7 separate regions of the Homo sapiens genome follow, and all the other regions are linked to region 3. Evidence: fine-mapped expression QTL. A gene starts in region 3. Each other region holds a variant in brackets. All regions are shown on one strand. Distances are between the middles of the regions.

The links.
Region 1: its variant is fine-mapped to the expression of ACSF3 in prefrontal cortex (GTEx, PIP above 0.99).
Region 2: its variant is fine-mapped to the expression of ACSF3 in lung (TOPMed, PIP 0.92).
Region 4: its variant is fine-mapped to the expression of ACSF3 in whole blood (TOPMed, PIP above 0.99).
Region 5: its variant is fine-mapped to the expression of ACSF3 in regulatory T cells (Schmiedel 2018, PIP 0.95).
Region 6: its variant is fine-mapped to the expression of ACSF3 in prefrontal cortex (CommonMind, PIP 0.95).
Region 7: its variant is fine-mapped to the expression of ACSF3 in lymphoblastoid cells (TwinsUK, PIP 0.95).

The regions. Positions count from the first base shown.
Region 1 is chr16:89,112,128-89,116,190 of GRCh38, forward strand. ACSF3 (acyl-CoA synthetase family member 3) reads left to right here. Exons shown (of 11, transcript NM_001243279.3): 5 at 1-119; 6 at 2,212-2,360. Among named protein-coding and RNA genes, the nearest start is that of ACSF3, 20 kb to the left of the region's middle. RefSeq lists enhancers at 1,840-3,039, 2,239-2,338 and a silencer at 2,434-2,728. The variant C/T (reference allele first, on the strand shown) is at 2,160.
Region 2 is chr16:89,204,769-89,208,831 of GRCh38, forward strand. No RefSeq gene overlaps it. Among named protein-coding and RNA genes, the nearest start is that of SLC22A31, 6.3 kb to the left of the region's middle. The variant G/A (reference allele first, on the strand shown) is at 2,499.
Region 3 is chr16:89,091,839-89,095,901 of GRCh38, forward strand. It overlaps ACSF3 (acyl-CoA synthetase family member 3), which reads left to right and starts at 2,014. Exons shown (of 11, transcript NM_001243279.3): 1 at 2,014-2,158. RefSeq lists a silencer at 1,778-2,187 and enhancers at 2,608-2,797, 4,017-4,063.
Region 4 is chr16:89,170,797-89,174,859 of GRCh38, forward strand. CDH15 (cadherin 15) reads left to right here and starts at 952. Exons shown (of 14, transcript NM_004933.3): 1 at 952-1,077. The coding sequence starts at 1,036. RefSeq lists a silencer at 388-1,027. The variant C/T (reference allele first, on the strand shown) is at 2,002.
Region 5 is chr16:89,316,875-89,320,930 of GRCh38, forward strand. ANKRD11 (ankyrin repeat domain containing 11) reads right to left here. Exons shown (of 13, transcript NM_013275.6): 3 at 59-204. The coding sequence starts at 145. It overlaps LOC128462377, which reads right to left. Exons shown (of 2, transcript NM_001416403.1): 2 at 172-201. The coding sequence ends at 172. LOC100287036 (a long non-coding RNA gene) reads left to right here and starts at 3,578. Exons shown (of 4, transcript NR_168302.1): 1 at 3,578-4,056. RefSeq lists enhancers at 149-740, 741-1,332, 2,594-3,106, 3,051-3,430, 3,107-3,620 and a silencer at 3,951-4,030. The variant G/A (reference allele first, on the strand shown) is at 2,269.
Region 6 is chr16:89,123,602-89,127,664 of GRCh38, forward strand. The region is part of intron 7 of ACSF3 (acyl-CoA synthetase family member 3); the gene reads left to right. Among named protein-coding and RNA genes, the nearest start is that of ACSF3, 32 kb to the left of the region's middle. The variant A/AAGAGAGAG (reference allele first, on the strand shown) is at 2,097.
Region 7 is chr16:89,244,831-89,248,893 of GRCh38, forward strand. It overlaps LOC124903766, which reads left to right and starts at 2,548. Exons shown (of 3, transcript XM_047435040.1): 1 at 2,548-2,632; 2 at 2,767-3,172; 3 at 3,295-4,063. The coding sequence starts at 2,548. The coding sequence ends at 3,829. RefSeq lists a silencer at 2,326-3,075. The variant A/G (reference allele first, on the strand shown) is at 2,434.

The sequences.
Region 1 (4,063 bases), 20 kb after region 3:
ATCAATGTCTTTATGGCAGTGCCTACAATATACACCAAGCTGATGGAGTACTACGACAGGCATTTTACCCAGCCGCACGCCCAGGATTTCTTGCGTGCAGTTTGTGAAGAAAAAATTAGGTAAGTGAAAAGAGCCCACTTTCTCGTTCAGAAAGTCTTAAAGATCAACAGATACGACTTATTTCTAATAAATCACTCCTACTAAGTTCTGGGAAGCAGTGCTTTCCATTTCCTTTCAATGTTCCCTCTCTCTCTACCCGTCTCCGTCTCTACCTCTCTAACTGTCTCTCTCTCTCTCTACCCGTCTGTATGTATATCTGTAATCTCTTCCACGTCGATAGCTGCCTGGATTCTGTATCGCTCTCTCTGTCACACTCTGTCTCTCTATCTCTCTCTGTCTCTCTTTGTCTCTCTCTCTCCATCTCTCCATCTATCTGTCTTCTCTGTCTCTCTTGTCAGACTCTCCATCTCTGTCTTCTCTCTGTCTCTCTCCATCGCTCTTCATCTGTCTCTCCGTCTTCTCTTTCTCTATCTCTCCTGTCTCTCCATCTGTCTCTATCTCTCCATCTGTCTTTGTCTCCGTCTGTCTGTCTGCTCTCTCTCCTGTCCGTCTCTCTCTCTCTCTGTCATGGCGTCTGAAGGACAAGGGTGAGGACAGTGAGCTGACCCGCTTGCTCCTGCTTCATCTGCCCACATGTCCCACGGCGCCTGCCTCTCCTATGCAGTCTCTCTGCCTTCGTGGGCAGCCCTGTGAGGCCTCCTGCCTGGGGCACGTTCTGCTGCTTTTCCTCTCAGCCCCGCTCCTCCCCTCCCAGCTCCCTGGATAAACCCCTCCCTCCCAGGACAAGCTGGTCTTTTGGGCCACCCAGGGGCGTGTTTGCTCTGCACTCTCCCATGAACCTGCAGGCGTGGGAACGTTTCTTTTCCCTCGTGGCTGTTGAGGTGTGGTTCACTAACTGGAAACGCACACGTGTGGCTCAGTGAGTCTTCACACGCATCACAGGCCCGCACCTCCAGCAGAGTCGTGGGTGGGGTATTTTTTCTTTTTGTGAGAGGGAGGGGTGGCGTGGAGGGTGCACTGCAGGAACTGAAGGCTCCACTGCCATCCAGTTTCCAGTGGGATGTGTGTGTCTGTGGCTGCCGCGCGCTCCTCCCAGTCCCCAGGAAGTGCACAGGGAAGCGGCACCTTTGTTCCTGGAGAGAATTCCGGGTTGTCCAAGGCACATGTCTGAACCGCTTCGCTCTCTTTGCCGTTCCCTTGCCCCTTTTCTGTGAGGCCACCGGAGCCCATGGTTTTGCTGCTGCTACTGCTGGGATACCCTGGGGCTGGGCAGGCCCCAAGCTGAGCAGGGTGAGCACAACGTTTTACCAAATCTAAGGAACCAAGGGCAAGAACGAGGTCAGTGAAGGAGAGGATCAGGTGATTTCTGGGGTGACAGAGGCAATGAGACCTCGGCCATCTGGATCTCCCAGCGGGGGTCCTGTCAGTGGTGCCTCCTCGTAAAGCAGGGGCAGCAGCAGGGACCACTCCGCTCAGACCGCAAACAAAAGCGCCTTCCCTACTGCCCGTGAGGCTGCGGGAAATGCTGTGTGAGAGCGCGGGGACTCGGAGTTCTCAGGGCCCGTGTTCTCCTGCCAAGCCTGAGCTGACCCTGTGGGCCAAGATGGCTGCAGTTCTGCGGGTGGTTCTGAGCCCCTTGGGTGTGCCCGGCCCCACCCCTTGGGTGCCGCGGCCATTCACCCATGTCCGCGTTCTGCTGCAGAGCCTGCAAGCTGAGCCGGCTGTAGTCCCCGGATGTGCCTGGCCGCAGCCTGCAGCGCCGTGGCTGTTCACCCGTGATCAGCTCCGTGGTCGGCAGCTGCACGGTCACTGCTGTTCTTGAGCGTGGTTGTGAACAGCGCAGGAACTTTGCAGGGGACACCGCGGACCCTAAGCACATTGTTTACCCTCATTAGCTGTTGGACCTGCTTCCTTCTAAAATACACCCAACAGATCGTTTTCAAAAAACAAAGTCACGCCGTAGCGCAGACTGCAGCGTTGGTCCCGGGTGTCGCACAGTGGTGCTGTACCCACGGCCTGGGGCTCCTGCACTCGTGAAGGAGCTGCCACTTTTGCAAGCAAGGGCCGCCTCCTGAGGGGCTAAACCTGCCACCTTTGCA[C/T]GCGAGAGCCACGTCCCAAGGGGCTAAACCTGCCTTTGGTTGTGCCGCGTAGGCTGATGGTCTCAGGCTCAGCTGCCCTGCCCCTCCCAGTGCTGGAGAAGTGGAAGAACATCACGGGCCACACCCTGCTGGAGCGGTATGGCATGACCGAGATCGGCATGGCTCTGTCCGGGCCCCTGACCACTGCCGTGCGCCTGCCAGGTACGAGCACTTCCCACAGCTGCGTTCCTCTTCCACTGTGCTCTGAGCCCCCCAAGGTGGGCCAGTCTCGAACCACCCACATTCGGACTGAAGGGCGGCATGGAGGATGCTCCCCCGTGGGACAGGCCACTCGGCCAGGAGAGCACTCAGGATGCACTGCGACCTGTCCCCTCTGGGTAGATCAGCCTTCTCCCAAGTCTCAGTCGGGTGGATGGGGGAGGTGTCTGTGCTGGCCCCTGGCTGTATGACTGGGGAGACAATGGGAAGAACAGCAATGCCTGGAATGCAGGCGTCAGTGCATGTCTCAGAGGAAGGCGGGGGGCCATGCTGTTGGCTCCAGACCACATCAGCAGTGGTGGCAGCCTCCGTCTGTCTGGAGTCCGGGTGCCACACAGCGCCAGCAGCAGTGCCAGGAGAGGTGGGTGTGGTGGGCAGGGTGGGATGAGTCAAGCACCTGTCTTCCTTCTCTAGATGTGGGCTCCTGATACCGGGCCCCTCTTGTCCAGCCTTCCCTAACACATCCCATTCTGACTTTCATCTGACCCAACCATTTGAGCCCTGGGTCCTCCGCTGGGACTTCTGGGAACAGAGCCCACAGCTGGGGGGCCACCCTGCTGCTTTCTGCGCAGCCCTTCCAGTCTGTCTAGAGTAGAAGAGAGATCTCAGTGCAGACTTAAAGTGAGACCATCCCGCACATCTGTCTGTGCAGCTGCTTACCTGCAGACCCAGTAAAAATTCACCCCTCTGGCGTGCAGCTCTGTGTGTCTTAAGAAACATCATCACAGTCAAAATAGAGAAGGGTTCCTCGCCTCAGAAACTCCCTTCCTAGTGCTCAGCACCTCCTCCACCCCCGAGGCCTGGCCCCTTGTTCCTGTTTCTCTTCTTGTGGTTTTGCTTTTTCTGGGAGGCCACGTGGCTAAATCCTGCAGGACGTGGCCTCTGAGCCTGTCTGCTTCCGCCCGGCTTCCGCCCACAGTCAACTGCCTGTGCTGTGTGCGTCAGAGCCCGCGCCTTTCCCTGCTGAGTGGCATCCGTGGTGTGGGTGCGGCACCGCTTGTGACCCTGTTTTAAGCAATGACACGTGAGATGTTATCAACATTTGTGTGCAGGTTTCTGTGCGAACGTGGTTTTTTATTTCACCTGGGCAGATACCTAGGAGAGAGATTGCTGTGTTGTCTGAAGCTTTCAAGCTGTTCTCCAGAGCGGCTACACCATCCCCTTCCCCCTGCAATGGGTGGGAGGTCACGAGCACCTGCTGCTCCAGCGGGCGGTGGTGGTGTCTCGTTGAGTTCATGATTCTCTCATGATGGGTGGCGTTGAGCACCTCTTCCTGTTCGTGTCATTCCGTTTTCAACTGGGGCCTTTGTTTTCTTGAGTTTTGAGAGCTTTTAAAATTCGGGACCCAAGTGTCAGCTGTGCGATTTTAAATATCATCTCCCAGCTTGTGGTTTGTCTTCCCATTCACCTAACAGCGTCTTTAAAATCAGGAGTTTTAGGTTTTGGCCCGGTTTATCAATTTGTTTTGTGAATTGTCTGATGTCATATCTAATAAATCCTTGCGTAGCCCAAAGTCACAGAGAATAGTTTCAGCTCTTACGTTTGGGACCATGATCCATTTTGAGTTAATGTTTGTACATAGTGCGAGATACGGACCACAGTTCTTTTTTAGTGTGTGAATGTCTAACTTTTTAGCACTGTTCGTT
Region 2 (4,063 bases), 110 kb after region 3:
TCCACCCGCCTCGGCCTCCCAAAGTGCTGGGATTACAGGCGTGAGCCACTGCACCCAACCCAATTACTGAAGATTTTAGGTGAGTTTTTTCTTTTCTTTTTTCTTTTTCTCTTGGAGACAGATTCTCGCTCTGTCACCCAGGCTGGAGTACAGCAGTGTGATCCTGGCTCACTGCAACCTCTGCCTCCCGGGTTCAAACGATTCTCCTGCCTCAGCCTGCCGAGTATCTGGGACTACAGGCACGTGCCACCAAGCACAGTTAATTTTTTGTATGTTGGTAGAGACGAGGTTTCACTGTGTTGCCCAAGCTGGTCTCAAACTCCTGAGCTCAGACAATCCACCCGCCTCAGCCTCCCAAAGTGCTAGGATTACAGGCATGAACCACTGTGCCCGGCCTGAAGTAAGTTTTGAAATCGGGAACTGTGAGTCCTCCAGCTTTGTCCCACGTAGCTGGGACTACAGGTGCCCACCACCACGCCCAGCTAATTTTTTTGTATTTTCAGTAGAGACGGGGTTTCACCGTGTTAGCCAGGATGGTCTCGATCTCCTGACCTTGTGATCCGCCCAGCTTGGCCTCCCAAAGTGCTGGGATTACAGGAGTGAGCCACCGCGCCCAGCCCAGCTTTGTTCTTTTTAAAAATTATTTTGACTATTTGGGGTTCCACAAGGTTCCATATGAATTTTTTTTTTTTTTTTTTTTTTTTTGAGACGGAGCCTCGCTCAGTTGCCCAGACTGGAATGCAATGGCGCGATCTCGGCTCACTGCAAGCTCCGCCTCCTGGGTTCACGCCATTCTCCTGCCTCAGCCTCCCGAGTAGCTGGGACTATAGGAGCCCGCCACTACGCCCAGCTAATTTTCTTGTAGTTTTAGTAGAGACGGGGTTTGACCGTGTTAGCCAGGATGGTCTTGATCTCCTGACCTCGTGATCCGCCCGCCTCGGCCTCCCACAGTGCTGGGATTACAGGCGGGAGCCACCGCGCCTGGCCCCCACAGTGCTGGGATTACAGGCGTGAGCCACCGCGCGCGGCCTATGTGAGTTTTTAAATGAATTTTTCTGTAACAACAATGTCAGTGGGACTTTGATACGAATTCCCTATCAAAATGTTTTGATAGAAGAATTAATACTGTTTTGAATTAATCAAAATTGATTGCACTGAATCTGCAGATTTATATGGGCAGTGTTGACATTTTTAACAATATTAATTCTTCTAATCCATGAACATGGGATGTGTTTTCATTTGTTTATGCTTTCTTTAATTTTTTGTAGATTTTTATTGCACAATTCTTTTACCTCCTTGGTTAAGTTAGTTATTAAGTATTTTATTATTTTATTATTTTATTATTTTTCTTTGAGATGGAGTCTCGCTCTGTCACCCAGGCTGGAGTGCAGTGGCCGCCATCTCGGCTCACAGCAACCTCCGCCTTCCAGGTTCAAGTGATTCTCCTGCCTCAGCCTCCCGAGTAGCTGGGACTACAGGCACCTGCCACCAAACCCGGCTAATTTTTTGTATTTTTAGTAGAGACGGAGTTTCCCTGTGTTAGCCAGGATGGTCTTGATCTCCTGACCTCATGATCCATCCACCTCGGCAGTATTTTATTCTTTTACTTTTATTTTTTCAGATAGAGTCTTGCTCCGTCACCCAGGCTGGAGTACAGTGGCACCATCTTGGCTCACTGCAACCTCTGCCTCCCGGGTTCAAGCAATTCTCCTGCCTCAACCTCCCAACTAGCTGAGATTACAGGCGCCTGCCACCATACCTGGCTAATTTTTTTGTATTCGTAGTAGAGATGGGGTTTCAACATGTTGGCCAGGCTGGTTTTGAACTCCTGACCTCAAGTGACCCGCCTGCCTTGGCCTTCCAAAGTGTTGGGATTACAGGCGTGAGCCATCACACTTGGCCAAGATGCTATTGTGAGTAGAATTATTTCCGTAAATGCTTTTTTAGATTGTTAATTGATAGTATATAGAAATGCACTGGTTTTGCATTTTGACATTGTATCCTGCTACTTTGCTGAATTCATTTATTAGTTCGAACACATTCTGTCTGTGTGTGTAATCTTCAAGGATTTCCCGTATATAAGATCATATCCTCTGCGAACAGATGATTTTACTTCTTGCTTTCCAATTTGGGTGGCTTTTATTGTATTTTCTTCCCGAATTGCTCTGGTCAGAACTTCCAGTACTATGCTGAGTCCAAGTGGTGAAAGCCAGCAACCTTGCCTCGTTTCTTATCCTAAAGGAAAAGTTTATTCTTTCACCATTCTGTAAGACGGTTGCTTTGGGTTTTTCATATATGACTTTTTTTTTTTTTTTTTTTTCTTTTCGAGACAGAGTCTCGCTCTGTCGCCCAGGCTGGAGTGCCATGGCGCGATCTTGGCTCACTGCAATCTCAGCCTGCCAGGTTCAAACGATTCTCCTGCTTCAGCCTCCCGAGTAGCTGGGACTACAAGTGCCTACCACCATGCTCAGCTAATCTTTTGTATTTTTAGTAGAGAT[G/A]GGGTTTCACCGTGTTAGCCAGGATGGTCTCAATCTCCTGACCTCATGATCAGCCCACCTCGGCCTCCCAAAGTGCTAGGATTACAGGCATGAGCCACCACGTCCGGCCTATTTTGTTGGTTTTTATGTTAATGTTCGTAAGGGATATTAGTCTCTAGTTTTCTTATATCTCTGACAGGCTTTGGTGTCAGAGTAATGCAAGCTTCATGGAAAGACTTAAGAAGTATTTCGTCCTCTTAAGTGTTTTGGAAGTGTTTGAGAATTTTTAACATTAAATCATCTTTAAACATGCGGTAGAAGTCACTAGTGAAGGCATCAGGTCTAGAGCTTTTCTTTTTTTTTTTGAGACGCAGCTTCACTCTGTCGCCCAGGCTGGAGTGCAGTGGCATGATCTCAGCTCACTTCAACCTCTGCCTCCCAGGTTCAAGCAGTTCTCCTGCCTCAGCTTCCCGAGTAGCTGGGACTATAGACGTGTGCCACCATGCCTAACTAATTTTCTTGTATTTTTAGTAGAAATGGGGTTTCACCATGTTGGCCAGGCTGGCTTTGAACTCCTGACCTCGCATGATCCGCCCGTCTCGGCCTCCCCCAGTGCTGGGATCACAGGTGTGGGCACGGTGCCCACCAGGGCTTTTCTTTATCAGAATTTTGACTAGTGATTCTACTTCCATACTACTTACAGGTCCACTCAGATTTCTAACTTCTTCCTGATTTAGTCTTGGTATGTTTAGCGTGTCTGGGAATGTGTTCATTTCATCTGGGTTATACAATTTGTGTACGACTTTTTTCATAACACTCTCTTGCGGTCTTTTTATTTCTGTAGAATCAGTGGTAATGTCCCCACTTGGATTTCTACTATTGGTAACTTGAGTGTTCTCTTTTTTCTTAGTCCATTTAGCAAAAAGTTTGTCAATTTTGTTGATCTTTGCAAAAAATCAACTTTTGGTTTCATCCTCTATTTTTCATTTCTGTTATTTTTGTTCTAATCTTTTATTATTTTCTTATTTCTACTAGCTTTGGGTTTAGGTTGTTCCTTTCTGGTTGTTTAAGTTGATTTGAGATATTTCTGTTTTTGTTTTTTTTTGTTTTGTCTTGAGATGGAGTCTCGCTCTGTCACCCAGGCTGGAGTGCAGTGGCGTGATCTCGGCTCACTGTAACCTCTGCCTCCTGGGTTCAAGTGATTCTCTTGCCTCAGCCTCCCAAGTAGCTGGGATTACAGGCGTGCTCCACCACGCCCAGCTAATTTTCGTATTTTTAGTAGAGATGGGGTTTTACCATCTTGGCCAGGCTGGTCTTGAACTCCTGACCTTGTGATCTGCCCACCTCGGCCTCCTGAAGTGCTGGGATTACAGGCGTGAGCCACCGAACACCCAGGCAAGCAAATCTCTTGAACCTGGGAGGCGGAGGCTGCAGTGAGCCAAGATCACGCCAGTACACTCCAAACTGGGCAACAGTGCGAGACTTGGTCTCAAAAAATAAAATAAAGAGGTTACTTATTATTTATTTATTTATTTATTTATTTATTTATTTATTTATTTATTTATTTATTTTTGAGATGGAGTCTC
Region 3 (4,063 bases):
CTGATTTTTTTATCTTTCCTCTCCTGTTTTTCATCTCTCGGTCTTTCTGTTCTATTTCTAGGAGACGTCCTTTAGCCCTTCCCTTAGGGTTTTTACTCAGGCTGTTGTATTCTGACCCCTCCAGCCCCCCTTTATGTTACTGGAACGCTCTTTCTCGGGGCATCTCGCTCTGGACTCATGGGGGCTGTCGCTTCCCTTGTCTCCCTGAGGGTATTAACAGGGGGTGGTTTTGGGGGTCTCTTCACTCTGCACAGCCTGGCTGCCTGCAGTTGTTCTGCTGGTTGTTTCAGCCCACGTCTCTCTGGCTAGAGGCTGTCCTCCAATGTCTGCTAATCCCTGACTGCTCCTGCTTCCCACCTGCCACTATGATGCTGACCAGAGCCGAGGCACAGATGGGACCCCTGCTCATAGGATGACTGGGCCATTTCTCGGAGACTGCACCCTCCCCCCACTGCCACCCTCACAGAGCCATGGCCAAGGACCACGGGAGCTGTCACCCTGTCCCAAGTCCTGTCTCTAGGTGGGTGACGCAGCCTGAGCTCTTCAACTTCCCAGGGATAGAAATTTGCGCACACACGTCCTGGGGCTGAATCCTGATGTTAGACGCCCTCCTTACTCTTCCTACTGCCCTCGTCGGAAACACCATTCAGCCTGCTGAGTCCTGGAAGCAGACAGAATTCTGACACCAGATCAAGCCTGTCCCAGTGGCAGAGGGTTGGACTTGCTTTTTCTGCATGATACCTAGCAGGGTGGCAACCAGAGGCACTAGAAGTTTGGGTTTGTTCTCCCACGCTCTGTGTTACAAACTTCCCCCAGATCCAGCTCCTTCCTCCCAGGAAAACCATCCTCGGGCTCCTGAAGTGCCCTTTCCTGAGCTTTCCAAGGACACAACTGCTGCCCCAGCAATCATCACAAGAGAGGAAGATGGGCATGGAAAATAATACACTTACAAAAAAACTGTGCAAGGTTCTGCAGATAATTTTTTTTTTTTTTTGAGACAGTCTCACTCTGCTGCCCAGGCTGGAGTGCAGTGGCGCAATCTCAGCTCACTGCAGTCGCCACCTCCCAGGCTCAAGAGATTCTCCTGCCTCAGCCTCCCGAGTAACTGGGATTACAGGCACCTGCCACCACTCCCGGCTAATTTTTGTATTTTTAGGAGAGACAGGGTTTCACCATGTTGGTCAGGCTGGTCTTGAACTCCTGACCTCGTGATCTGCCTACCTCGGCCTCCCAAAGTGCTGGGATTACAGGCGTGAGCCATCACACCAGGACGGTTCTGCAGATAATTTGTACTACTGTTTGCCAGTACATGTCTTTGTGTTATTAGTATTCATTTTAGGGGAAAAACCCTCAAATTTCAGCCAACTGGACTTTGTGTTTGGCTTTAAATGTTTTCCGCCACTGTCCATCCAACAGTCTCGCTTCATATTCGTATCCTGGTTCCCAAGTCCCTTCGAGGAGAGATTCTCAAATGCGGTCCGTTTAAAATCACCCAAGAAATACAAAAATTAGACAGGCATGATGGCGGGCGCCTGTAGTCCCAGCTAATTGGGAGGTTGAGGCAGGAGAATCACTTGAACCCGGGAGGCGGAGGTTGCGGTGAGCCGAGATCACACCACTGCACTCTAGTCTGGGCGACAGAGCGAGACTCCATCTCAAAATAATAATAATAATAAGAAAAAGTAACAACAATAATAATAATAATAAAATCACCCAGGAGCTCAGCGTGCAGACCCCCAGCCGCAAAGCCCAGAGAGCCCCTTTTGGGAGGACGGGGCGAGGCCCAGCAATCCGCGTTGGGAGTGGTCCCGCGCGCCGTTCTGATCTGGGCAGCCCTGGGCTAGCGGAGACCACGGCGCCTTGCCTCGGCCACGGCTCACGAGACGCCCGCGGCCCCGACCCCGCCACGACGGGACGGGCGGGACAGGGGAACACGCGCGCCCGGAACCCGCCGCCACGGCGCCGCGCCGGGGGGACGCGCTTGGGCGACGGACGCGCCGCGCCGGGGAAGCTGTTGGGCGCCGGAACTGGTCCGGCCCGACTCACGACCCCGCGGGACCCGGCCGGAACCCGGCCCGACCCCGGCGCGCGCGCGGCGGAGGACGAGGAAGAGTTGTGGCGAGGCAGATCCTGCCCCGTGGCCGCGGCCGTCTCGTAGGTGCGGGCGGCGGGGCCCACGGGACCGCGGCGGGGTCGGCCGGGCGCAGAGCTCTCGGGGGCGCGGGCTCCGGCGCCCGCCCCTGGGTCGCAGCTGGGCTTGAGCCGTGGCCCGTGGCGCGGTCGCTTCCCCGCGAGCCGCCTGGGGCCGGGCGTCGGCCTTCCCGGGACGCCGAGCCTCTCGTGTCCGGTGGGGAGCGGGGCCCCCGCGCGGGGTGCGGGGAGAGAAGCTGTGCGGACGCCGGGCCCGGTGATACCGTCGAGCCGGCGGGGTCCGTGTTCAGGCATCCTCAGAACGAATCGTCTTTGGTTGTGTTTGGAATAAATTCACTTCCATTTCTCATTGGGCTTCAGAAGTCACCCTTGAAGTACTCCCCGTTTTAGTTGTTTGCTGCGTGCACCTTGCTGGGCGCGTGGGGCACAGGTTCACAGCCGGCCTAGCCCCTGAGGGCATGTAGATCTATGAGCAAGCAATGGAGACGTGCGGCCGGCCGTGAAGTATTTGGAAGGTACTGCAGGCAGCCCATTCCCTGGAGAGAGGGAAGGTTTAAAGGGGTGAGGCCCGGTGCAGTCAGGAGTTGATGTTGCTGTCCTGAGTCTAAATTCCACCAGGCAGGCCAGGTGCAGTGGCTCATGCCTGTAATCCCAGCGCTTTGGGCAGCAGAGGCAGGAGGATCACTTGTGGCCAGGAGTTCAAAGCCAGCCTGGGCAACATGGTGAGACCCCTATCTCTACAAAAAAATGTAAAAATTAGCTGGGTGTGGTGGCGTACACCTGCACTTCCAGCTACTGGTTAGGCTGAGGCACGAGGATTTCTTGAGCCCAGGAATCGGAGGCTGCAGTGAGCCATGACAGCACCATTGCACTCCAGCCTAGGTGGCAGAGCAAGACACTGTCTCAATAAATAATAAAACTGAAAAAGAAGAGGTGATATTTGAACTGGGCTTGGAAGAATGATTAGGAATTTGCTAGAAAGGGAACACGTTTAGAGATAGGAACACGAATTGTGTCTGGGGCATAGTTGTTGCTTTCCCATCCTGGGAGGACAGACATTCGTGTTAGGGCCCAAGGCTGAGACCTTGTTGAGGAGGGGGTTCACATGGTGGACCCAGGAGCACGGGTGTTACTACCGGTGGACCCTGGGGACCCTGCGAGCTTTGTAGCGTGAAGCCTGGCTCAGGCTGGTGTCCTCTCCGCAGGTGTTGGAGGACATAAGATGAGGCTTCCCTTGCTCTTGCTCCTTTGGCTCTGAACCATCTCCTCAAGGCAGACAGAAATGGCGGATTAAACTGTGGGCTTGGGATAGTTGTAAGTGTCACCTTTCCAGATGGCATTTTTAAAATAGTATTTTTCTTCCTAAAATGGATATGGGTTTCAAGTGTATTTTTCCTTTTTGGTTTTTTTTATTTGAATGTACTGCTCATGAATGCAATGTGAATGTCTGTTACTTAAAAATGTAATTTTGAAAATAACCCTCCAAACCACAGGTGTGATGCTGAAACGCATCCTGCCCCGCAGGCCGAGCACAGCCCTCCTCTGCCCCACGCTCTCATCGGGGCAGCCGACAGGAGGAAGTGCCGGCATCCACTTCAAACACAAGGTCTGGGGGGGCGGGGGTGTCAGGTGTGGTGGTGAACAGGTCAGGTGTCGTTTTATTCATGTTGAAAGCAGCCCTTCATTTGAATGCGAGTGTCATTCTCATCTAGTAATTTTTGTTGCGAGGCTCCATGGGGAGCACCCTGCTGAGCACGGCGCGGCCGTTTGTCTTCTGCCTGGCCTGTGCCGGGCCATTCGTACATTCTCACGTGAAGCCTGTGAGGCAGGTCTTGTTACTGTGCCATCTTAGCGGTGGGAAGTGAAGGGCTAGGCCAGTGAGGAAATGAGGACAAAGGCAGCAGCCGTTCAA
Region 4 (4,063 bases), 79 kb after region 3:
CAGGAGGCGGCAGCGTTGACCTTGGGTGTTGAGGGATGATGAGAAGGAGTTCTGTAGGAAGGAAGGTGCTCCAGGCAGGGGGCCTCGGGGAACAAGGGGATGCTGGAGGAGGTGCGTGGACTGGGGGAATTGGGGGTGTCCTACGAGCCACGCTGGTATCAGAGGCGTGTGAACCAGAGCAGTTCCATACTGAATAAGAGCTGGGCAAAATGAGGTCGCGAGGAGGTGCGTGGAAGGCGGGCCTAGCGTTCAGTGGGATGCGGGGAGGCGCAGGAGACGCAGCCAGAGAGGCGAGGGGCCCAAGGAAGTGCTCAAGAGGTGTCCCCCGGCAGGGACTACAATGCAGATTCCCTGGAGCAGGGGCGAGCCGGGCCCAAGGAGCAGGAAATGAAGAAGCCAGGAATCCCAGCTGGTCCCTGACCCGGACGCACCCACCCTGCCTTCCCCACAGCCTGGCCTCTGGCTCTGCTCCCAACGCAGCAAGCCGGGGTATCTCCGACCTAGCCCTGGCCCTGCCCGCCGGAACCCCGCAAAAGCTATCACTCAGCCCTCGGCCCCGCCCCGGCCCCACCCCGGCCCCACCCCGCACTCTCACAAGGTGTCACTCAGCCCTCGGCCCCGCCCCGCCCGCCCCATCCTCCTCTGGCTCCGCCCCACCAGCCTCGTGCGGTCACCGCCCCGCCGGCGCACCTGCGCTGTCACTCAGCCCTCGGCCCCGGCCCCGCCCCGCCTGCCCCACTCGCACACGGGCTATCACTCAGCCTGCGCCCCGCCCTAGCTCGCCAGAGGCTCCGCCCCACCCGCCTGCCAACACGCTGTCACTCAGCCTTAGCCCTGCCCAGGCCGGCCCTCGGCCCGTCAGAGGCCTCCTTCGTGCTGTCACTCAGCCCTTGCCCCGCCCCCTCCCCGCCCCCCTCACACGTGCTGTCTCTGTCTCTGGCCCTGGCCCGCCCCGCGCACTTGCGCTGTCACTCAGCCTGGACGCGCTTCTTCGGGTCGCGGGTGCACTCCGGCCCGGCTCCCGCCTCGGCCCCGATGGACGCCGCGTTCCTCCTCGTCCTCGGGCTGTTGGCCCAGGTAAGGCATCGGCACCTGCGGGGGTCCCCGCTGCCTCCCTCGACGCTGCGGGACAGTGTCTTCAACTGCAGCCGCACAGGTCTCCCCCAGAACCACTGGCCCTGGTCGCCTTTGGGGGCCTGTGAGCGGAGTGGCTCCGGGTGGGTCCCTGGGCTGGGGGCAGCACCCCAGGGGTTGTGGGGAGTGAGTGTAACCAAACACTCCATCTGGTGGAATCACCCCCAGGACTGCAGAGTGCTGCTGGGGTCAGGGACCCCAGGCAGGGGCCACCCAGGTAGCCGTGCCCTCTCTTTGGAGGAACCGCTGCCGGGGTCTGGGGGTTGCCAGTCTTGAGTGGAGCAGAGAGAGGGGGGAGCGGCAGGAGTGCCCCTCTCTGGGGGGCTGGGGGCCAGGTTTCTATAGGGACTCCCTGCGGTGGGCACAGGACCCCTGGCTAGTCTTGGGTTTTGTCCAAACCCCCCACCCCAAGTTCCTGGCCAGCAGGGGTGGCTGCAGGCCCTGCCCCCAGGAACTCACCCTCACGGCTACTTCTCGATTGGGAGGGCCCAGCCCGAGCCAGGTCGCAACACACGGCCTTGCAGAGTGGCGTGTGGCAGCCCTGGGGGCTCTGTTCCTGGGCTTCACCTGGGACCCTGCCGCAGCTGCCTGGGGTGATCAGGCCTGGGGGCCCAGCCCCCAGAGGCTGCTGGACTCTGCCCCTAAAAATCTTGTCTGGACTGCTGGCACCGTGGTCTCTCCAACGTGGGAGCAAGCCAGAGTGGAAGGAAGCCCAGGCCTCAGCCCCCCACACCCGACATGGGTACTGCCTAGCTGGAGCCACGTCTCCTCACACCCTAGGGGGACCTAGACATGGAGGATGTGGCCTCAGTGGCTTCAGCCCCCAGGGACTGGGCTGGGCTGGGGCATGGCCGGCTGTGGTTGGGA[C/T]GTCACTGGGTACAAGAGGGCAGCCTCTCTCTGGCCAATTCGAGAGAGAATGCACATAAAGGGCTTAGCGGTGCTCACAGTATTCATTGCTCTTGTGGTCCTGGGGTGGTCAGGGAGTGCTGGACACAGTGAGTAAGGGAAGCCACTCCTTTCCCAGCCCCCACTGAAGGGGCTTCCTGAGTCCCCTCATTCCCACAGGCCTCCCAGCTCCAGCTGGCTCCAATTTCAGCCCCTGGCAGCTGACCAGGCGCCTGGCCAGCCAGACCCTCCAGCAGCTGCCCCTGAGGGCACCACGGCTCCTGCCACCCCCGACTCCCCCATCTGGAGACAGTGGTGGGGGGAGACAGTGGCTCAGCATGCGTGCTCACCCCCCGGCCCTCCACCCCTCAGCCCTCTGCCGGGGAGCGCAGGCTGGGGGGCTCCATGCCTCCAGGGCCCTTCCCCACCTGCTCTGGGGACAGGGTTTCTTCCCTGGCACCCCAACCCAGGGCATGGTGGTGGGGAGGCTGGCGCCTGTGAAAACATTCCTCCAGACCTCTTCCTTTGGATTTGGGAGTGTCTGCCTTTCAAAAGGCCCCAGGGGGCTCTGTGGCAGGTGGGGAGGCAGGCAGGACCTCTCCCTCCTCAGAAGCCTTCCCTCTCACTGTCCCTTCTTTTCTCGCCCAGGGCTGGGGGACAATAACCCCCTCCCCCGACAGCTGGAGGCTGGGGGAGGTGGTGGAGGTGGGGGCCAGATGGCAAGGGGACTATCGCCAAGGCTCAAATTCACTCCACTGTGAGGCAAAATATGTCAGTGTCAGGACCCTGCCTGCCCCTCCCCCAGCAGCTCAGCTTTCAGGACTGTGAGCTCTCCTGGGCAGCCTTGGGGTCCTGGGCCGCCTCCTGGTGAGCCCCCAGGCAGGCAGCGTGGGCCCATCAGGGCCTTCTACAAGTGAGGGGTTGCTCCCCTGCTCGGGCCACCTCTGATTGCTGAGCTCACTCAGCCCCACCCGGAGGGTGTCTTCAGAACTGGCCCCTCTCAGCCCTGCTGCACCTACACCATCCCTAGTTGCTGGTTCTACACCTGGGACCCCACCCCAGCTGGGAGGCGGCTGAGGTCTGGGGCAGCACACTTGACTCACAGAGAACCCCAGCCTGCTGGGAAGGTCCCCACTTCTGCATCTGGGTTTTGGGAGCCCCTTGGTCTCTGGGAGACAGTCAGCAGCACCCTGGGGGCCAGGCAGGGGCTCTTAGCTCGGGTGACTGTGACCAAGGCCAAGAAGGGAAGTGGCTCCCAGGCCACTGTTCTTCCCACAGTGGAAGGACAGCCCCAGACACCGTGCTTTGGAGGGGACAGCTGCCTCCATGCCTCTTCTTCCACATCCCTTCTCTGAAGCCCGCAGCAGCTAGAGAGGGTGGGGCCCAGGGAAGATGCTCCAGCCGCTCTGGGCCAGGCCAACAGCTGGGGCCATTCCTGGCATGCCTGGCCATCCAGGAACGGGGTGGCCCCAGATTCCAGCCTGGGGGAGGGGTTGAAGCCTGAGAAGCTTGAGGGGCCTTCGCACTCTCTTCCCAGGCAAACCCACCCACACGCCACCAAGCGTGTTCCTAGAATCTCGTAGCACCCTTCCTTGGAAAACCGGGGGAGCAGGAGTGCAAGGTCGGCCCCAGAACCGCTCCTCGTTCCCGTCTCGCAGTGGTGTTCGTAAACCCCATTCCCACCTCGCAGTGGTGTTTGTAGACTGCAGCAAGCGCCCAGTGTGTGCAGAGCTTTCTTACACAGCAGCCCCTTGGGGTTGAGTGTCAGGCTAGGAGCAGACCTCAAGAGAGGCGTTAAGTCCCAGGAGCTTGGCTGCAGGGCGGTGGCCCCAGACGTCTCAAGGGCTTCGAGGTGGTTCCCTCCAGGCTCTTGGCTAAGGGTCCAGTCGAGGATGAGCTTGGGGGTGTCATTGGGGACCCCCTGTGGGGAAGCAGGTCACTAATGTCCATGGGTCTTGCCTGGCTTGGGTGGGGGACAGAGAGGAGTGGACGAGTGTCCACAAAATCCACCTCCCAGGGTGCTTGCGTCCCCTACCCCAGGTGC
Region 5 (4,056 bases), 230 kb after region 3:
CCACCTCATCCCCATCTGGGTGCGGTGAGCATGCAGGGCTGGGAGGGGGCAGCATTACCTTTTTCCCAGTCTGCTTCTCCACCATGTCGCTGCTGAGGGGAAGCTCTTCCTGCTGTGGTGCTTTAGGGCACCCACCCTTGGGCATCGTCCTGCTCCTCACCCGATCTTCATTTACACGGCCGGCGCTTCATCATCAACCGTCTGCTTCAAAAGAGAAGACACACAATTCACTGAATTCAGAGGCAGCTCAAAACTCATCCACTCTCACACCGCACTCAACAGACTCAGTAACTAGTCAAGGCAGGCAGCTGCTCTGATCAGGGCTGGGGCCCGGGCCAGGCCCAGGAAGGGACTTCTCAGGATACGCCTCCCATAAAGGGGTCACCAGCAACAGGAATGGCAGCTTTGAGCAGGAAGGAGAACAGAGAAGGGTCAAGCACTTTGTAGTGGCAGAAAGGGACGCATGGCCTAGGGTGTGGCTGTGTTCTGGGTGGCAGTCAGCAGCACCTGGATCCTGGGTCCCACCTGGTACAGGCTACACCCAAAACGGTCAGGCACCACAAGGCAGTCCCTTCCCCGCATTACAGGCAAGGTCACAACACGCAGCGCAGTACCCCAGCCCTCAGGTCTGGCAGGTCATGTCCACAGCCCCAGCCTCACGCCCCACTCACCACCTGGGAAGGAGCTCCTGTCCCCACCAGGCCTGTGCTTTTTGCACACCCAGTTCCCTAACTTGGTAGGCAAGGGGTGTCTCTGAGCGAGTCCCAGCAGCTCCGAGGTCCCAACTCCACGCCCATGGAAGCAGACGCCCCCTCGGGCCTCAGGCTCCAGCTCCTGGGTTTCCCAGGAAATCCGAGGACACATACTGTATTAATTGTATATTATTTTTATTTATTAATCATGTTTTATTTTAGGAAATTTTGCCATCTTAACAAGTTTCTGGCCAGGGAGAGACTGCCCCTCTCTCAGGGCTGGCAAATTCCTAGATAGCCAAGGGCTCCCATGCAACCCAATCACCTTCTTACCCAAGTTCACGCCCAGGCCAAGCCCTGCCTGAAACCAGCGCAGAGCCAGGTAAAGGAAACTAGAAAGTGTCCCTACAGCACAAAGCCTGCAAGAACTTTCCGAAGCAGCCACTCCCGAACTATTTGCTCTGCCCCGTCCCTCTCTTTCTGCAGGAAACCCAACAGGCAGTTGGGGGAGGCCTTCCCCGAGCCCCTGCTTCCGACTCCCACCCCCGTGGTGTGAGGCTGCCCCTCTGCGACACACGGTGCGAGCGCACTTCTTCCTTCCCAGCCTCGTCCTGGTCTCTTCTGTGGCGATGCCAACTTCCCCACGCCACGCCTGGCATGGACACTCTCGGAGCATGGGCCTCCTCCCTGCCTGTGGGCCTTCTAGGTTTGTTCACCATCACAGCCAGGCCTCCCGGGTGCACTCACGAGAGGAATGGGGGACACACCTACACACCCACACCCAAAGCCACTGTCCCCCCATCATGTCCTCGCCGCACCGTCAGTTAGAAAACATTTCATACAAATGGAACTGTGTGCACGTCTCTGCCCTTTCCGCCACAGCAGCACCTCTGTGCGCGACCATGCCGGGAGAAGCAGCTTCTGCAACTCGCTCCCCTGCATTTACCCATCTCGCTCATGCACGAAGTATGGCTTTTGAAACACGATGTGCAGACCCATCTGTGAGTGGCAGCTCCACTGTGAGCCTCTCCCACCTCCACCCCGTCAGCTAAAGGATACGTTGCATGCCACCTGCCCCTGGACGCAGGCTTGGCTGAGACCACAAGATGCTTCTCCTCCAACACCATCTCATGACCTGCTTTGTCTTTCTAAAATAAATGATAAAATCCCACCAACTGCTGTCTTGGTATTTAACTGGTACAAGAACACAGGTGAAGTTATTCTGGAGAGAGGGACAGGTCGGGTCAACGTATTCACTGCCTGACACCTCCACCCGCGGTGCAGGTGAGCAGGTGTTTCCATCCACCATCCCTGATGCCTGAGGCCAGACATATTTTCTCTCTCTACCTGAACCAATGAATTTTACATTCTCTTCCAATTTTCCACCACAAAACCGGAATGTCTCAGCCTGGAGAAAGGGCATCTCAGCACCTGACTCGGAAGGCTGTTCAAGCTCATGGCTGTCTAGAAACTCAGTGGTAATGTTTACAAGTTTAAGGATTATCTGGAATTAACATTTTAAAAAATCCAGACTGTCTGCTCTCAGGACGGAAAAACGGGGCCTTCACCATGTAGA[G/A]TCCACCGTCCTGATCCCAGATGTGAGTCTGTGGCCCACGGACACACTCAACAGCTCTGGCGTGGTCAGGGCGCAGACCCCACGGCCTCCGGACGGTGTCTGGGCCCCGACAGTGCGGGGCTTATCACTTCACTCCTGAGACACCTGATTCTCTTCATGTCCCTAGCTTGGTGCTTTGCCCAGGCACCTTCCCCAATGGACCAGGGATCTGGGAGTCCACTCAGGAGGTGGAGGAAGTGGGTCGCACCCACCAGGCAAAATACTTTTCACGGCCTGCATCACAGCGAACACTCCGGGGACTCGGGAGTGTTGTCCCAGGTGTACGCTGTGTTTTCTGGAGACGTTTCTCCAGCCACCTGCACGATGACAGCTAAGACCATCCAGGCCGTGGCCCTTCCAGGACCCTCGTGTCCGCCTGGCCTTGGCTACAACATGTTACCGATGGCAGCGATGTGCTCGAGGCCCTGCAACCCCAGCCCCCGCCTCTCCATGAACCACCACCCTCATCACAGTCATGGAGATGGTGACAGCTGAGATGTCCTGCTGAAGCATCTGCTGGATGTGGATGAAGCTGGTTTGGATGTAGCTGCCATCTAGCCCAGGCTACACCTCCCAGGACCCGCCTGCAGGCACCAGGCGTGCAGCACGCGGCCCACTCTAGAGTCTTTTTCAATGAGAGACCAGATGAGGACAGAGGCTCCAGTTGCTTTTGTTCTGTTCCAAGACTTGCCATCCCAGTCCTCCCAGAAGCTGCCCTGGTGATGCCTCTGGCACCTTTGGCCCCCACACTGCCCTGTGTTCCCTCCACCAGGCTCAGGGCTGGTCAGCCTCACCCCTTGCCGTGAAATGGCAGAGCCAGCCGAGGGCCGAGGAACCGTTACTCAGCCGTGTCAGTGACTTCTACCAGGGGCTGCACGGCACTCAGGAGTCAGGCCAACAGGCTCTGCTGACTCATGGGTGTTGTCTGAGGGTGGGGGCTGTGATGATGTCCCCAGGCCTCCCTGGCAGGGCTGTCACATAAAACAGTCCTTGAAGCTGGGAGTCCCCTCTTTAGACAGTTCCGCAGCCCCTGTGCCTTCTCATCACGATGCTGCACAGCCGACCACACAACAGAAGGCACCGGGTCTCACTCCCGGGGGAGACTCTTCCCTGGAAGGTGACTTGGCTGTCCCTGCCTAGACTCATTTTAAGTGCAGCCTAAATCTCCCTCATTTCCAAGTTATCAGGCAAAGTCTATTTTAAACTCACGACCCTTGAATCAGCAGGAAACTGAAACACGCCTCAGGCCACTGGGGCTGACTCACGCCCTGTGCTGAGCGGCAAGGCACAGCCGCGGGAAGGTAAACGCAGAGCCGAGGGGCCGGCCAGCACCTGGCCCTGACCGCCCCCAGGCCACGCATTCCTTGTTACTTCACCTCCTGGCGGATGGCAACCGTCCCAGCTTCGTGGACTGTCAGGGTCACCGAGAGTCCAGGGTGGTGGGAGTCCCCCACACGAGCCACTGGCACACTCCCTGAAGCAGAAGCCACGGCGCCAAAGCTGTGGGCTCAGGGAACTTGCCCATTACCTGGCAGCCCCGCATCTGTGCCAAAATAAGACACAACTCAGCCCAGCGGAGTGGACAGTGTCTGCGGCCAGCTCTGGGATCCAGGGCCAGCTGATGCTGGGAACAGCCGTCCTTGCCCTGTGCCTCTCCACACTGCGAGAGCCCCTGCAGCCCAGAGGGGCTCCACCTCCCCTGCAATGGGGCTCAAAAGACAATCCTTCTACGGGGCTGGCAGGACAGAC
Region 6 (4,063 bases), 32 kb after region 3:
ATGGCCATCCCTAGGCCTGTGGAGTGACTCATGACTGTTCCTGGGCAGATGATCAGCCAGGCCTTCAGAGCTGAATTAAGAGGCTTGGTGTCATATTTGTCAGGAAACAGAAAGTACCTGCAGAAAGGAATGTGCCCTGTGGGGATGGGAGGACACCTTCCCAGGATCATCCCCGGGGCCAGAGTATCTGGACCCTCCCCAGGTGGCAGCTGGCCTGCCAGGCCCAGGGCTCAGCCTCCTCCATCACCTCGCTGAGGGGCTGGCTCCTACCACTCCCTCACATCCTGTGACATATCACAGGTACCACACACACATGCAGTGCGCGCACGGGTATCACAGATACACGCAGTGTGCACACGGATAGCACACGTAGTACGCATGGGTATCACATGCAGTGCACACACAGGTATCACACGCACGCAGTGTGCACACTGGTATCACACACATGCAGTGCATGAACGGGTATCACACACATGCCTAGTGTGCGCATGGGTATCACACACATGCCTAGTGTGCGCATGGGTATCACACACATGCAGTGTCCACACAAGTATCACACACACATACACATTGTGTGTGCACAGCTGTTACACACATAAATACAGAAAAAAAGACCTGATGGAAACCCCAGAAGTCAATATGGCTGAGCTCCAGGCCGGACTCCCTGACGATGTCATAGGACGAGGGGGCGCGTGTGCACACTGCATATATGTGTGTGTGAGACCCGTTTGCACACTACATGTATGTGTGTGATACCCCTGTGCACACTGCATGTGTGTGATACCTGTGTGTGCACTGCTCATGTGTGTGTTACCCGTGCGTGCACTGTGCGTATGTGTGTGATACCCGTGCGTACTCTGCGCATGTGTGATACCCGTGCACACACTGAGTGTGTGTTACCTGTGCACATGCTGCATGTATGTGTGTGTGTTACCCATCTGCTCACTGTATGTATGTGTGTGAGATACCCATGCGCACACTGTGTGTGTGATACCCATGCATGCACTGCGTGTATGTGTGTGATACCTGTGCACATACCATGTGTATGTGATAACTGTGCACGCACTGCGTGTGTCACATATGCACACACTGCATGTGTGTGTGATACCCATGTGCGCACTGCATATACGTGTGTGTTACCTGTGTGCAACACTGCATGTGTATGTGACACCTGTGCGCACACTGCATGTGTGTGTGATATTTGTTGAAAAGACTACCCTTTCTGCATTGCATTGCCATTGCCACTTTGCCAAAGATTAATTGGACATATTTGAGAGGGTCTACATACAGGTTATCTGTTCTGTTCCCTTGATCTATGTTTCCATTCCTCTACCGACACCACATTATCTTGACTGTTGTGGTTTTATAGTAGGTCTTAACAATTGTAGTGTGATTTCACCAGCTTTATTCTTTCTCAGAGTTGTTTTGGTGCACATATTAATTTTAGAATTAGCTTGTCTAGCCGGGCCTGGTGGCTCACACCTGTAATCCCAACACTTTGGGAGGCCAAGGTGGGCAGATCACCTGAGGTCAGGAGTTCAAGACCAGCCTGACCAAGATGATGAAACCCGTCTCTACTAAAAATACAAAAATTAGCCAGGCATGGTAGTGGGTGCCTGTAATCCCAGCTACTTGGGAGGCTGAGGCAAGAGAATCACTTGAAACCAGAAGGCGGAGTTTGCACTGAGCCGAGATCACGCCACTGCACTCCAGCCTGGGCAACAAGAGCAAAACTCTGTCTCAAAAAAAAAAAAAAAAGAATTAGCTTGTCTATATCTACAAAAAGTTCTTTTGAGGTCTTGAATGGAAAGCCAGGTGTAGTGGCTCATGCCTGTATTCCCAGCATTTTGGGAGGCCAAGGCAGGCTAATCAACTTGAGACCAGGAGCTCAAGACCAGCCTGGCCAACATGGTAAAACCCTGTCTCTACTGAAAATACAGTTAGCCAGGTGTGGTGGCACACGCCTGTAATCCCAGCTACTCGGGAGGCTGAGTCACAAGAATTGTTTGAGCCTGGGAGGTGGAGGTTGAAGTGAGCCAAGACTGCACCACTGCACTCCAGCCTGGGCAACAGAGTGAGACTGCCTCAAAAAAAAA[A/AAGAGAGAG]AGAGAGAGAGAGAGAGAGAGATGTTGATTGGAATTTAGCCATTCTGATCGGGGAGATCACTTGGGGGAGAATTAACAATTACTATGCTGAGTCTTCCAATCCATGAACATGGTATGTCTCTCCATTTACTTAGATCCGTGAACACGGTGTGTCTCTCCGTTTACTTAGATCCGTGAACACAGTGTGTCTCTCCGTTTACTTAGATCCGTGAACCTGGTGTGTCTCTCCATTTACGTAGATCCGTGAACACGGTATGTCTCTCCATTTACTTAGATCCGCAAACACGGTATATCTCTCCATTTACTTAGATCCGTGAACACGGTATGTTTCTCCATTTACATAGATCTGTGAACACGGTCTGTCTCTCCATTTACTTAGATCAGTGAACATGGTGTGTCTCTCCATTTAGATATACTTTGGTTTCTTCTGTGTTGTATTCAGCATATAGATGCTGTACTTGTGTTAAATTTATAAGTAAATGTTTCTTCTTTTCTTTATTCCTCCTATTTCTTCTCCTCCTTTTCCTCTCCTTTTTAAACTATTGTAAGTATGGCAGGTGGGTATGGGGGGAGAGTTGTTTGTTTTTTTGAGACAGAATCTTGTCCTTTCGCCCAGGCTGGAGTGTAGTGGTACGATCTCAGCTCACTGCAACCTCTACTTCCTGGGTCTAAGTGATTCTCATGCCTCAGCCTCCCCAGTAGCTGGGATTACAGATGTGTGCCACCACACCTGGCTGATTGTTGTATTTTTAATAGAGGCAGGGTTTCACCATGTTGGCCAGGCTGGTCTCAAACTCCTGACCTCAAGTGATCTGCCCGCCTCGGCCTCCCAAGATGCTGAGATTACAGGCATGAGCCTCTGCACACAGTCACGTTTTTGTTGCTGTTGTTAGTTTTCAACTGTTCATTGCTAGTAGGTAGAAATAGAATTGATTTTTGTGTGTTGGCCTCAAATACTTTAGTTGTTACCTTGCTAAATTAACTTACTAGTTTTAGGAGATTTTAATAGACTTCTTGGGAATTTCTACAAATACAATCATGTTTTCTGCAAATACAAACAGTTTTATTTCTTCCTTTCCAACCTGTATGACCAAAGCCCTGACTAGGACTTCCAATACGATACTGAACAGAAGCAGTCCGAGTGGACCTTCTTATTTCTGATCTTAGGGAAAGGATTCAGTCTTTCAGCAAGTGTGTTAGTTACTGGCTTTTTGCAGATTCCATTCTATCTATAATGTGCTTAGACTTTTTATCACTAAATGTATGTTGAATATTTTCAAAAAGCTTTTCGGTATTGATGGACTTTTCTTTATTAGGCTGTTAATATGGTAGATTACATTGAACCAAGCTTTCATTCCCAGGACAAACCCCACTTGGTCCTGGTGGGTCATTTTTTTATATATAGTACTGGATTTGATTTGCTAGCATATTGCTGAGTATTTTTGCATCTGTATTCATAAGAAATTTTGGTCTGTAGTTTCCCATTTTTGTACTTTCTTTGGGTTGTGTTTGAGGGTGATGCTGGCCTCATTAAATGAGTTGGGAAGTGTTCTCTCCTCTTTTTTTTTCTGGAAGAGATTGTGTAGAATTGGTATTATTTCTTCTTTCAATGATTGGTGGAATTCACCAATGAAATCATCTGGGCCTAGAGGTTTTCTTTTCTATTATTATTATTTTGTGTGTGGGGGATAAGGTCTCGTTCTGTCACGCAGGCTGGAGTGCAGTGGTGCAATCATAGCTCACTGGAGCCTTGAACTCCTGGGCTCAAGTGATCCTGCGTCAGCCTCCCAAGTAGCTGGGACCACAGGCATGTGCCAACATGCCCAGCTAATTTTTTATTTTTATTTTTGTAGAGTTGGGGGTCTCACTATATTGCCCAGGCTGATCTTGAACTCCTGGCCTCAAGTGATTCTCCCTCCTCGCCTCCCAAAGTGCTAGGGTTACAGGTGTGAGCCACTGTGCCCTAC
Region 7 (4,063 bases), 150 kb after region 3:
GGATACCCACGTCCTCGGTGGTGTCATAGACACAGCCCACACACCACCCAGCTAAGGGCCATAGCCATGACGCAGGCCTAAGAAATGAACCCCAGCACCTGCGGCCGCACCCTCCCTGTCCTGCCCATTTCAAGAGGGACTTGGGCAGCGGCTGGAGAACTGTGCTCAGTGGCATTTCCCGGCGAGGTGCTTGACCCTTGGCCTCAGCTCTGCGCCTCCCCATGCCCTTTCCAGTTCCTGGCTCTTTTTATCCAGCTTAATCTACTGCTGGGGGCCGTGCTATCCCTGAGTTTTTACTTTAAAATCTAACGTTTTGAACATATGTGTGTATGTATCTTTATAATAGGATGATTTACATTCCTTTGGGTATATACCCAGTAATGGGATTGCTGGGTCAGATGGCACTTCTGATTCTAAATCTTTAAGTAATCGCCACACTGTCTGCCACTATGGTTGAACTAATTTACACTCCCACCAACAGTGTAAAAGTGTTCCTTTTTCTCCACAACCTTGCCAGCCTATGTTGTTACTTTGCTTCTTTTTTTTTTTTCTTTTGTTTTGAGACAGTCTCACTCTGTCGCCAGGCTGGAGTGCAGTGATGCGATCTCGGCTCACTGCAACCTCTGCTTCCCGGGTTCAAGCGATTCTCCCGCCTCAGCCTCCCAAGGAGCTGGGATTACTGGCATGCGCCACCATGCCCGGCTAATTTTTTTGTGTTTTTGATAGAGACGGGGTTTCACCATGTTGGCCAGGTTGGTCTTGAGCCCCTGACCTCAAGTGATCTGCCCTCTTCTGCCTCCCAAAGTGCTGGGATTACAGGCGTGAGCCACTGCGCCCAGCCCATCTGTTGTTTCTTGACTTTTTTTTTTTTTTTTTTGAGACGGAGTCTTGGCTCTGTCGCCCAGGCTGGAGTGCATGATGCCATCTTGGATCACTGCAGCCTCAGCCTCCCAGGTTCAAGCAATTCTACTGCTTCAGTGGGGTCCCGAGTAGCTGGAATTTCAGGCACCTGCCACCACGCCCGGCTAACTTTTGTATTTTTAGTAGAGATGGGGTTTCGCCATGTTGGCCAGGCTGGTCTCAAACTCCTGACCTCAGGTGATCCACCCGCCTTGGCTTCCCAAAGTGCTAGGATTACAGGCATGAGCCACCATGCCTGGCCTGTTTCTTGGCATTTGAAAAATTGCCATTCTGACTGGCGTGAGATGGTATCTCACTGTGGATTTGATTTGCATTTCTCTAATGATCAGTGATGTTGAACTTTTTTTCATAGGTTTATTGGCTGCATGTATGTCTTCTTTTGAGGAGTGTCTGTTCACGTCCTTTGCCCACTTAAAAAATTTTTTTTTGTAAATTTGTAAGTTCCTTGTAGATTCTGGATATTAGACCTTTTTCAGATGTATAGACTGCACAAATTTTCTCCCATTCTGTAGGTCTCTGGTTAGCTCTGATGATAGTTTCTTTTGCTGTGCAAAAGTTTAATTAGATCTTTAGTTTAATGAGATCCTATTGGTCATTTTTTGCTTTTGTTGCAATTGCTTTTTGTGATTTGATCATTGCAGCACTATTCACAATAGCAAAGACATGGAATTGACCCCAGGGTCCATCATGATAGACTGGATAAAGAAAATGTGTTACATGTACATATACACCATGGAATACTATGCAGCCATAAAAAAGAAGCGAGATCATGTCCTTTGCAGGCACATGGGTGGAGCTGCAAGCCATTATCCTCAGCAAACTAACGCAGGAACAGGAAAGTAAACACGGCATGTTCTCACTTATAAGTGGGAGCTGAACAACATGAGCACATGGACACAGGGAGGGGAACAAAGCACACTCGGGCCTGTTGGGGGAGGGCGGGGGCAGGAGGGCATTAAGAAAAATAGCTAATGCATGTCCGGCTTCATACCTACGTGACGGGTTGATAGGTGCAGCAAACCACCATGGCACACGTTTACCTATGCAACAAGCCTGCACATCCTGCACGTGTACCCCAGATATTAAAAAAAATAAATACATCCGACGTTTCGTGAAAGCTGACTGGGCATTAGTGGATCCAAGCACCAAACAGGACGGCAGGTGGAGACGTGGGACAGAGGCGGGTGGAGAGAGAAGCCGGCGGGATCCAAGGCCCCAGGGCAGGCCCTGGCAGCGATGTGGCAGCCCCTCTGCAGTTTCCACGCTGGTAGTCGTGAAGTAAATTCTAGGCCCTGCTCCCCAACCGGCGCGGGCCGCCCTCGCCTTCAGCTCCAATGCTGCTGCGCCCCAGGCCGCCCCGCTCCTGGCAGGCCCCAGCCTCTGACTCAGCCCCCCGCCTAGCCCCTGAGAGCAGCCTCTCCGCGGGACTGGCCTGTGCGCGCGCGTCTGCGGCACCGTCGGACCAGGGGCCGCCCCCGAGCGGGGAGCCCAGGAGGACGGCCAGGTGGCCTG[A/G]GGCAGAGGCGCCAGGGAGGATGGAGAAGGGACACCCAGGGCCTAGGCGGGGTGGGGGCAGGGAGGGCGGCGGGACAGCAAGGAAGTGGGTGCACCTGGGTGACCCAGCTGCGCATGAGCGGGCAGGGGCTCGGGGCGCGCGGACTCCAGGCGCTGGACTGCGGCGTGGAGCAGCGCTGGGGAAACCGCGCCGGGTTCAGCGAGGATTGCTGGGCGGGGCGCGCGAGGAGCGAAGCTGGCCGGGGGCGGGGCCTGAGTCGTGTCGGGGCGGGGCCTAGACCCGGGCTGGCCGTGGTGGGCGGGGCCTGAGTCGTGAAGGGGCGGGCCTTGCAGGGGCGGGGCCTCGAGGGGCGGAGCTTGCGGTGACCAGCGAGGGGGCGGGGCTTAGAGCCACTAAGAAGCGGGACCCAGTGAGGGCTAAACGTGGGGCGCCGGGGGCGTGGCGCGGGGCGCAGGTGCACGCAGGTTGGCCGCGGGCGCGCGGGGTCCGGCGGGAGTCCCGGGGTGGTCCCCGCGTGGGGCCGGGGGCGTCCGCGCGGGCGGGGCGAGGTCGGGGAGGGCAGCTGCCCGCCCTCCTCGGCACTGGGAGCTTTCGGCTGGTACTGCGGGAGGAGCTCCCGGGTGACCCGCGGGTTCTGAAACCGCCGCTCGGGAGCTCGGGGCCTGCGCGGCGTCTACGGGGCGAGCGAGGGAGAACTGACGCCTTTCGCTCGGATCCTTCTCCCCTTCCGAGAACCAGGTAGGTCGCGTTTATTTTCAAGTCCGACTGTTTTCGCGGTAACATTTGTGAGAAACATCACGGTGGATCCTGTGGGTCGCTGAGTTTTCTGACTCCCGGTTTGTCTTATTTTGCTTTGTCAGTGGGCTCTGCGCTCGCGTTAACAATTCGAATGGGCACGTTTCTGAGTTTAAGAACGCTGTTCGCTTCCTCACACTTAGATTGAGGTGGAACTCACGTCACATAAACCGGGTCGCAAGGCTCAGCTCAGCGGGGCCCCCCCACAGTGTTGCGGGACCAGCACCTTCTCGAGCTCCGGAACAGCTTCTACCCGCGCAGAGCCCGGCCCGTCGGCGGCCGCTCTCCGCGCCCCTCCCGGGCCCTGCAGCCCCCGCCCTGCTCCGCGGAGCAGCCTGTTCTGACCTCCGTTCCATGGAGCCCTACGTGCTGTGGCTTCTGTGTTCCGGCGCCTTTCGCTTAGAATCGCGTCTTAAAGGTTCGTCCGCGGTGGAGCGGGGATCAGGCCCGTGTTCCTTTTCAGGAGTGAATAATATTCCCTGGTATGGAGACTGCGCTGAGATAGGACCTGGGCCACCCCCTCTGATTATTTCCCGCCCACCCCTTCACTGGCGCCAGCCCCACGGAGACCTCGCAGGTGCCGTGAGAAAGTGGAGATGAGCAGAGTCTGGACGCATGCGCGGGGCCGGGAGGTGCCGGCCGCAGCCTGCGCCGTCTCCTAATGCGGAAATCTGCACCCAGGGCGGAACTCGCCGGTGTCTTCCGCGCGCGCACTGCACGTGTCGGCATCCTTTCTAGTGCGCCTGCGCAGCCAGCACCGCCTGCACCTGCGCTGACGCTCGCTGACAGCAGTACCCTCCTGGGAAGCCACGCAGGACCCGTCTTCGGGAGCCC